2 linked regions of the Homo sapiens genome follow. The protein of the gene in region 2 purifies or fractionates together with the protein of the main gene of each other region. This does not show direct contact. Each region holds a gene or a part of one and is shown on either strand. Other genes may lie near its edges. The genes, in order: FSD2 and TAPT1.

Region 1 (3,436 bases), on a different chromosome or scaffold from region 2:
CCCCAAGCACACACAAATTTGAAAGCTGCTTTGCTTTCTAATAAAGAGGCTTTTCCTTTGATTTTGGAAGATAATTTGATGTCTCTTTTCTCTTTGCAGGTATATGAGCTCCCTGAAAGCACAAAGCAGTTATTTCCATCTTCAGATCATTCAGAGATTATGAAGGCACAAACCCTGCCTTCAATTTGCTTATAGTCAAGTGGAGCAGACACAAGTCAATGATTGCAGTATAGCCACTGAAGTAATCTAAAAGAGGTGAGTGTGGCACTTAACCTCTCCTGGGAGGGGGAGGAATAAGGCAGTGTTTCCAAGAGGTGATTTTGGAGCTATACAGGCATTAGGTAGACAAGGAAGGGGAGGTCCATTCTGGGTGCCTAGGACTCTGTGGCTGATTTATAAATCGTAAATGGTACAAAAAACAGTGTTGAGTATCTTTTACCTTTCTCCAGAGTACTGTTCTTACTTTTGGATAGTGCTTCTTGTTTTTTCCTTCCCTCTCCCTGTCCCTGTCACCTTTAAATTAAATGAATGTTTGGAAGGAAGTAGGAGGGTAAGAATCTTTCTGGGTGGCAGAATAATAGATGGGTCTACCAAGAGCGATGTATATACCCAGTAAAGCCATCTCTAAAACTGTGTTTCTGCATTGTTACAGTGCATAGTTGGGAAATCTCAGTTTTGTTGGCTGTGTACTTTCCCAGTGAATGGATTATATTCCTTTCTGCGAGCCAGTCTGTTTGAATTTAAGGGCATCTCTTAAATTCCTTTCAAGCAAGAGACCTAACATTTATACTTAGGAATGAGAGTAGTAGAGACAGCAAGATTAGAATCCAAGTTCATATACCAAAACATTTTTATTTGCTATGTCTGAGTGACTACATGTTGTTTGAATCAACTGCAGGCTAATTTGTAACATTTCAAATAAATGATAGTTTAATTCCTCCAGGATTTGAGTAAGGTGAAAATAGAGCTAAAAACCATGATTCTGTCACAGTCTGGGAAAATGAAAAAGCAATCAATTAGTGAGTTGGGCTTAATTTTTTTTTTTTTTTTTTCTGGAACTGGTGATAGCAGAAAACAAGCAGTAAAGTAGTCAGACATGATATACTTGACAAGAACCACCACCTGTTCAGTAGCAACTCTAAAATAAGTACTAACTTAGGGGCAGTTGTTGTGCCCAGGTCATAGTCATACTCCTTCCAGGAGACTTCCTGATGACAGAAAAGATGCTGACCAGCTGGGGTCTTCTTTCCAAATAACTTTTCTCTTGCATTTAGATTAATTAACCATTGGTTACAGTGAAACAAGCATATGTACAGAGTTAATCTCCTATAGCTTGAAGTTATACATGATCTTTATTTGAGTATCTTGACTTGTTAAAGGACAGTGTTTTAAAAGCTGGATTTGGTTATGTTCTTCTGGAGACTAAGAAAATAGAGTCCTTGAAATCAAGCTGACTCTGCTTTTAGCCTCCTAAATGAAAAGGTAGATAGAACAGGTCTTGTTTGCAAAATAAATTCAAGACCTACTTATCTACCAACAGCAATTACACGCTTTCCATTGTCTTCCTATAGAAAATAGGAGTAGTACACTTATAGATGAGAAAACTGGAGAAAGACATAGTGAACATGTGAGAATCTTGCTCTACTAATTGATAGGAAGGTGACTAGAAATTGGCGAAGTTTTCTTGGTAAGTTGAGGAGAGGACTTTTCTTATAGTGCAGTCTGGTAGCTGAACCGCCTTGCATCAAGACCAATGTAGTCTTATTTACAGAATGCCACATCACAGTGAATTGTGCTGTGGACAGCTTCCAGTGTGTGAGTTGTGGAAGATGATGATTTTAACAGATTTTGGAGGATGAGAAGTATTAAGAAGAAGGCCCCACTGTCCATGCATTTGCTCTGCTTTTTACTTTTGACCAAGTATACACTTCAGAAATATCTTATTGGATGTATACAAAGTGATTGTGTGTCATTTGAACCAGCAGGAAGTAATTTATTAAACACACTTTTCTAAATAAAAGTCATTTAATTTTATCAGAAATCAGTGTCATTTTAGATTGCAAGTCTCAAACCAACTTTCCAATTCTGACTTGTAAGGGTGCCTTAAATCCTGAATACTGTACTCTGTATTACTAAACCCATGTTAGTTTACGCCAAGATTCTGTGGTGGTTTTACATATTCTTTTTCCCCTTTGTTAAGGTGGGGAGGCCACAGCTTATGTGAATGACTTTCTCAGGAGTTATAAAGTGATACAGGTAAAGCTAAGAAAAGAACAGATTTTGATAACTTTTGTTTTAACTGTCCAGTGTTAGGGATTGTGGCTACAGTGGTCTAATTTTTAAAAACTCTTTTTTTTGCTTTGTTTTTTAACAGACTTATCAGCAGGTTGCAGGTGAACATGGCCTTGAGGTAAATCTGTCCCTTGCTGAATACAGTTTCAGTAGATTGTTTATAGTAGTTTCAGGAATTGAGATTTTTTACAAAAATACAAAAGTTTTGCTTGGTTCTGTTCTAGATGTTTTCTTCTAAATAAATGAGAAAGATGTTTCAACAAAGGCTCTTTATGCTGAATAATTGTGATGCTTGAAGTTGCTAATCTGCTTTAAGTGGATTTTAAATGTCAGGCAATTCTAGACAGTTTTTTCTTGGTCAAATAAAAATTTAATTAAAACTTTATACGTGTTGAGTTTTTAATCCATTTATCCGTGTTCATACTAACGTGTAGTATTCCATAAAGCCTATTAGAACCCTGAATTCAAACTTGCCTTCTCTGTGATATCCTGTTTCTTACTTGGTAGTTTCTATTTCAGTAGCTGAGAACTTTTTTTTTTTTTTTTTTTGAGATGGAGTCTTGATCTGTGAGCCATCTCGGCTCACTGCAAGCTCCACCTCCCGGGTTCACGCCATTCTCCTGCCTCAGCCTCCCGAGTAGCTGGGACTACAGGCGCCCGCCACCAGTCCCGGCTAATTTTTTTGTATTTTTAGTAGAGACGGGGTTTCACCGTATTAGCCAGGATGGTCTCGATCTCCTGACCTTGTGATCCATCCACCTTGGCCCCCCAAAGTGCTGGGATTACAGGCGTGAGCCACCGCGCCCGGCCGAGAACATTTTTAAATATACATGATATGTATCTTTTAATTGTTTATAACTGGAACTATTTCTGTGCTTACATCTGCTGTCCCTTGTTTCAGAGTAGACAGTCCAGCTTGGCAGGATAGGTGTGTGTGTGTATAACGAGTTATTAAATTGTCAGTGTGAATTGTTAATTCAGGAATCTGAGCTGCCATTTATACGAGTAGGCAGAGTTTAGTAGGAGATGAGAGTCTTTCAGTTTGTCAGACTTTGCAGGTGCTGGAAAACATCAGAGGTTTTTTGTTTGTTTGTTTGTTTGTTTTTGAGACAGAGTTGCGCTCTTGTTGCCAAGGCTGGAGTGC
Region 2 (3,832 bases):
AACTGAGAAATTTTAATAAAAATATTACATGCTTACAAAAATAACATTTCAATAAAAAAGATATTTTATAAAACAAAATTTAGTGAGAAGAGTTTCTCAACAAGTAATGCTGGAACAGTTGGATAAAGGTTAAAAAAAAAAGAACTTTGGCCCCTTCCCTGCCCAAGAAAATTAATTCATAGTGGTTCATAACCCTAAACATAAATGCTAAAGTTATAAAACTTCTAGAACAAAATATAGGAGAAAACATTCACAACCTTGGTCTAGGCAAACATTTTTGGAGACCACACAAAAAGTACTAAATGTAAAACAAAAGAGAGAAACTGGACTTCTTCAAAATTAAAATATGTGATCATAAAACTTAAAAAGTGAAAAGGCCAGCCACAGTACTAAGAGAAAAGATTTGAGATGCATATATCTGACGATAGATTTTGTTTGTTTGTTTTCTGAATATATAACAAACTATACCAATCAATAATGAAAGGACAATCTAGTTTTAAAATGGGGAAAAGGCTTGAACAGACATTTCACAAAAGAAAATCTATAAATGTCCAATAAGGTCATGAAAAGCTGCTCGGCATTATTAGGGAAAATGTCACTGGAGAAAGACAAAGCCATAATGAGATAGCACTGCACACCCTCCAGAGTGACTGCTCTTGTAGCCTGACAGTGCCACAAGTTAGGATATGGATTAACTGGCACTCAGGCATCGATGGCGTGAGTGTAAAGTATTACAACTGCTGTTTTTGGCCATTTCTTTTACAGTTAAATGTTCACCTGCCCTGTAATTCAGGAAATATATTTCCTCAGTAGGACTTGTTGCAAGAATTATTATGGCAGCTTTGTTCATACTAGCCAAAAACTGGAAACAACCCAAATAGCTATCAGTAGGAAAATAAACAAACTGTATATCCATACCATAGAATACTACTTAGCAATTAAAGATAAAAGAATGAACTCCTAATATTGTCAGCTATGTAGGTCTCAGAAGCATTATGTTGAGCAGAAAAGCCAGACACAAAAGTGTACATGATGTATTATTTCATTTATATGAAGTTTATGATCAGACAAAATTCGTTTATGATGATAGGAATAAGAGGTTGTTTGTTGGGCATTTGGATTGACTAAGGGGACTCAAAGGAGCTTTCTGGATGATGGAACTTCTTTCTGTATTAAGGGCTTGGTGTCTCAAGTTATGCATTGATCAGAACTCATCACATAATGTACTTAAGATCTGTGCATTTCACTGTATGTAAATTTTACCTGTATATTAGACAAGGAAAATAATGGCATATGAATATGTTAAACAAGTTATAGGAGATTTGAAAACTAAGCAAGGAACAAAAAGAACAAATGGAAAACTTGAACATAAAGCCTAGATGATTCTATGAGGCCATGCTGGACCTGACTCTCAAGGCTCTGAGAAGCAGTTCATATTCTTGCTGCTTATTAATGTTGCTCACCTTTCAAGTGCAGACTGCCAAGTGTCATGAATTAGAAATGAAAGAGGAAGGAGGGAAGGTACTAAATTATAGAATACTTTGCTTCAGTAGTTAACCATAGAGTAAATTGATTCAACTGTAAGAATTTCGTTTGTTGTGGAAACCATGTTTTTTTTAAATTAATTCATATTAGTAACCTCCTTTGGGTAAGTGCTCTTTATAGAGCCTTAAACTAGACACGCAGATCTTAAGTTTTAAAGGTTTTCAATCCTTGTGTATAAAAGCTTCAAAATTATGAGGGGGAAATTGTGAATGTTTTTAACCTTATGGCCAGCATGTTGATGTAATTAATACCCCTTTTCATTTTTATAAACGGGTTCCCCAGAATTCCAACCTCTTAGCTTAGAAAGATTAGGTATTCAATATTTGAGTTTTAAGAAAACTCTGGGAAAAAAAATGATATAATGATCAGGTATGCATATCAGTCTACAAGAAATTTGGACTTTATTTTGGCTTAAAATGGTTACTACTTAGCACCAAAAAAAAAATTACTTTTTGCTGTAAGCAAAGTAGCTCATGTTACAATGCAAGGTGGTCCGCATTGTACCCTTTAAGAGTTTTATAAGAAATTAACTTTACCCTAAGGCAGATTTTAAGACCCTTCTCAAGTAAGAAAAAAAATATTCTAGGCAACGTTCAGCTATTAAAATGGAAAGATCAGGAGTCACCAAGAGGTGCTTTTTACTCTTTATATGAATATGTTGCCTTCTTCATATGCTTCAGTAGTAGCTACTTAATGAGAGCCAGTCAGGAGGGATACTCATATCGGCTATTTTTTTCTTATGAATTTTCCTATGAATTTTTTCTCCATCAGAATTTGAGTTGCCAGATACGTAGTGTAAGGTTCAGTCCTTCATGCTGGTTTAATATAGAAGACTTCATGGAGAAATCTGAGAGTAACTTTACCCCTTTCAGTGGTAGCTCACTGTATATTTTCTTTGGAGGAATTGCCTGAGGACATGTGAAAAGTAGTTTAGTTACCAAAACCAGATTTTTAACAAATTATCCTTTTCTTCACTTCATTTTAACATAAGCGTTAGCTGAATGTGGAACCCCAGCCTTTCTGGTTTGCATTCTTGAGATGAAGAATTTTAGGTAGTTTTTTACGCATTGGTAATGTGAACTGTGCATTTAGAAAGGTCCTTCAGGAGTTAGGTTGTCTGGAGTAAGCTTATAGCTCACTTAGCACTCTTAGAAGCCTGCATATCTGCAATAAATGTGGATGTTTGTTGGAAATAGTCACTCATTTTATATTTAAAATGTGACTGCAAGTATGTTAAAGTATATCCCTGTTAGTGGTAATATAGCAAGGAAAAAGCTTAATAACCTGAATGTCAGAAATATTTTAAAAGCATTAATACCAATGTTTTTAAGCTTCTTAATAAAGGTTAGGAGAAAACATTCCTAGAAATTTTAATTTTTAATCAATGTAAGAGTTCAGTTCTAATCCGAACCCTGACTATTCTGAAGATGAGATGGTATAAATATGTTGCTGATTGCATTATTTATCTAATATATGTTTGATTATCAGTATCAGACTCTGTTATTCTCATAAAAATTTTATTTCTTTTTATATCTTACTTTGGAGAAACTTAAAATTTGGGTATTTTTTAACTCAAATTTTAAAAGTCAAATCTTGATTTTATAATGTCTATGTAAAACATTTAAATGTAAAAGTTGTGAAAGTGTAAGAATAAAACTTCCAAAAAATCTTCACATAACAGCCTCATTTTTATAGTTAGATATAGTTTTGTATCTTTATCTTATCAAATAAAGATAGAGTTAATTTTTATGGTGTCACTTTTTAATCTTTAAGCTTGCCATCCTTCACATCCTTCATCTTATAAAATCGCATTCATTTACCAAATTTATCCATTTTTATTAATCTCTATCATATTTTGAAATAGTCTGCTTTTCTAAAATTTGTTTTGGGCCAGGCACAGTGGCTCACGCCTGTAATCCCAACACTTTGGGAGGCCAAGATGGGCGGATCACCTGAGATCAGGAGTTGGAGACCAGCTTGGCCAACATGGTGAAACCCTGTCTCTGCTAAAAATATAAAAATTAGCCGGGCATGGTGGCACATGCCTGTAATCCCAGCTACTCCGGAGGCTGAGACAGGAGAATTGCTTGAACCCGGGAGGTGGAGGCTGCATCCAGCCTGGGAGACAAAGCAAGACTCTTGTCTCAAAAAAATAAAAAAATCTTAAAAAATAAAATCTGTTTTGCCTTAAATACACCTTTAATGAGATAAGTTTTTCCCCCTTTCATCAGTATCCTTAGAAATGAAATTATTGCAGATTTTCTCTATACTTGCAGCTGCCATATGT

The links.
Region 1: the proteins of TAPT1 (region 2) and FSD2 purify together in Homo sapiens (co-immunoprecipitation; one large-scale study listed by IntAct). This does not show direct contact.

Annotation. Positions count from the first base shown.
Region 1 is NC_000015.10:82,754,530-82,757,965, forward strand, and holds the end of FSD2 (fibronectin type III and SPRY domain-containing protein 2), read right to left. Parts: 3' UTR 833-3,436; downstream 1-832.
Region 2 is NC_000004.12:16,181,469-16,185,300, reverse strand, and holds part of TAPT1 (transmembrane anterior posterior transformation protein 1 homolog), read left to right. Parts: intron 1-3,832. UniProt on the Homo sapiens protein: Plays a role in primary cilia formation. May act as a downstream effector of HOXC8 possibly by transducing or transmitting extracellular information required for axial skeletal patterning during development. May be involved in cartilage and bone development.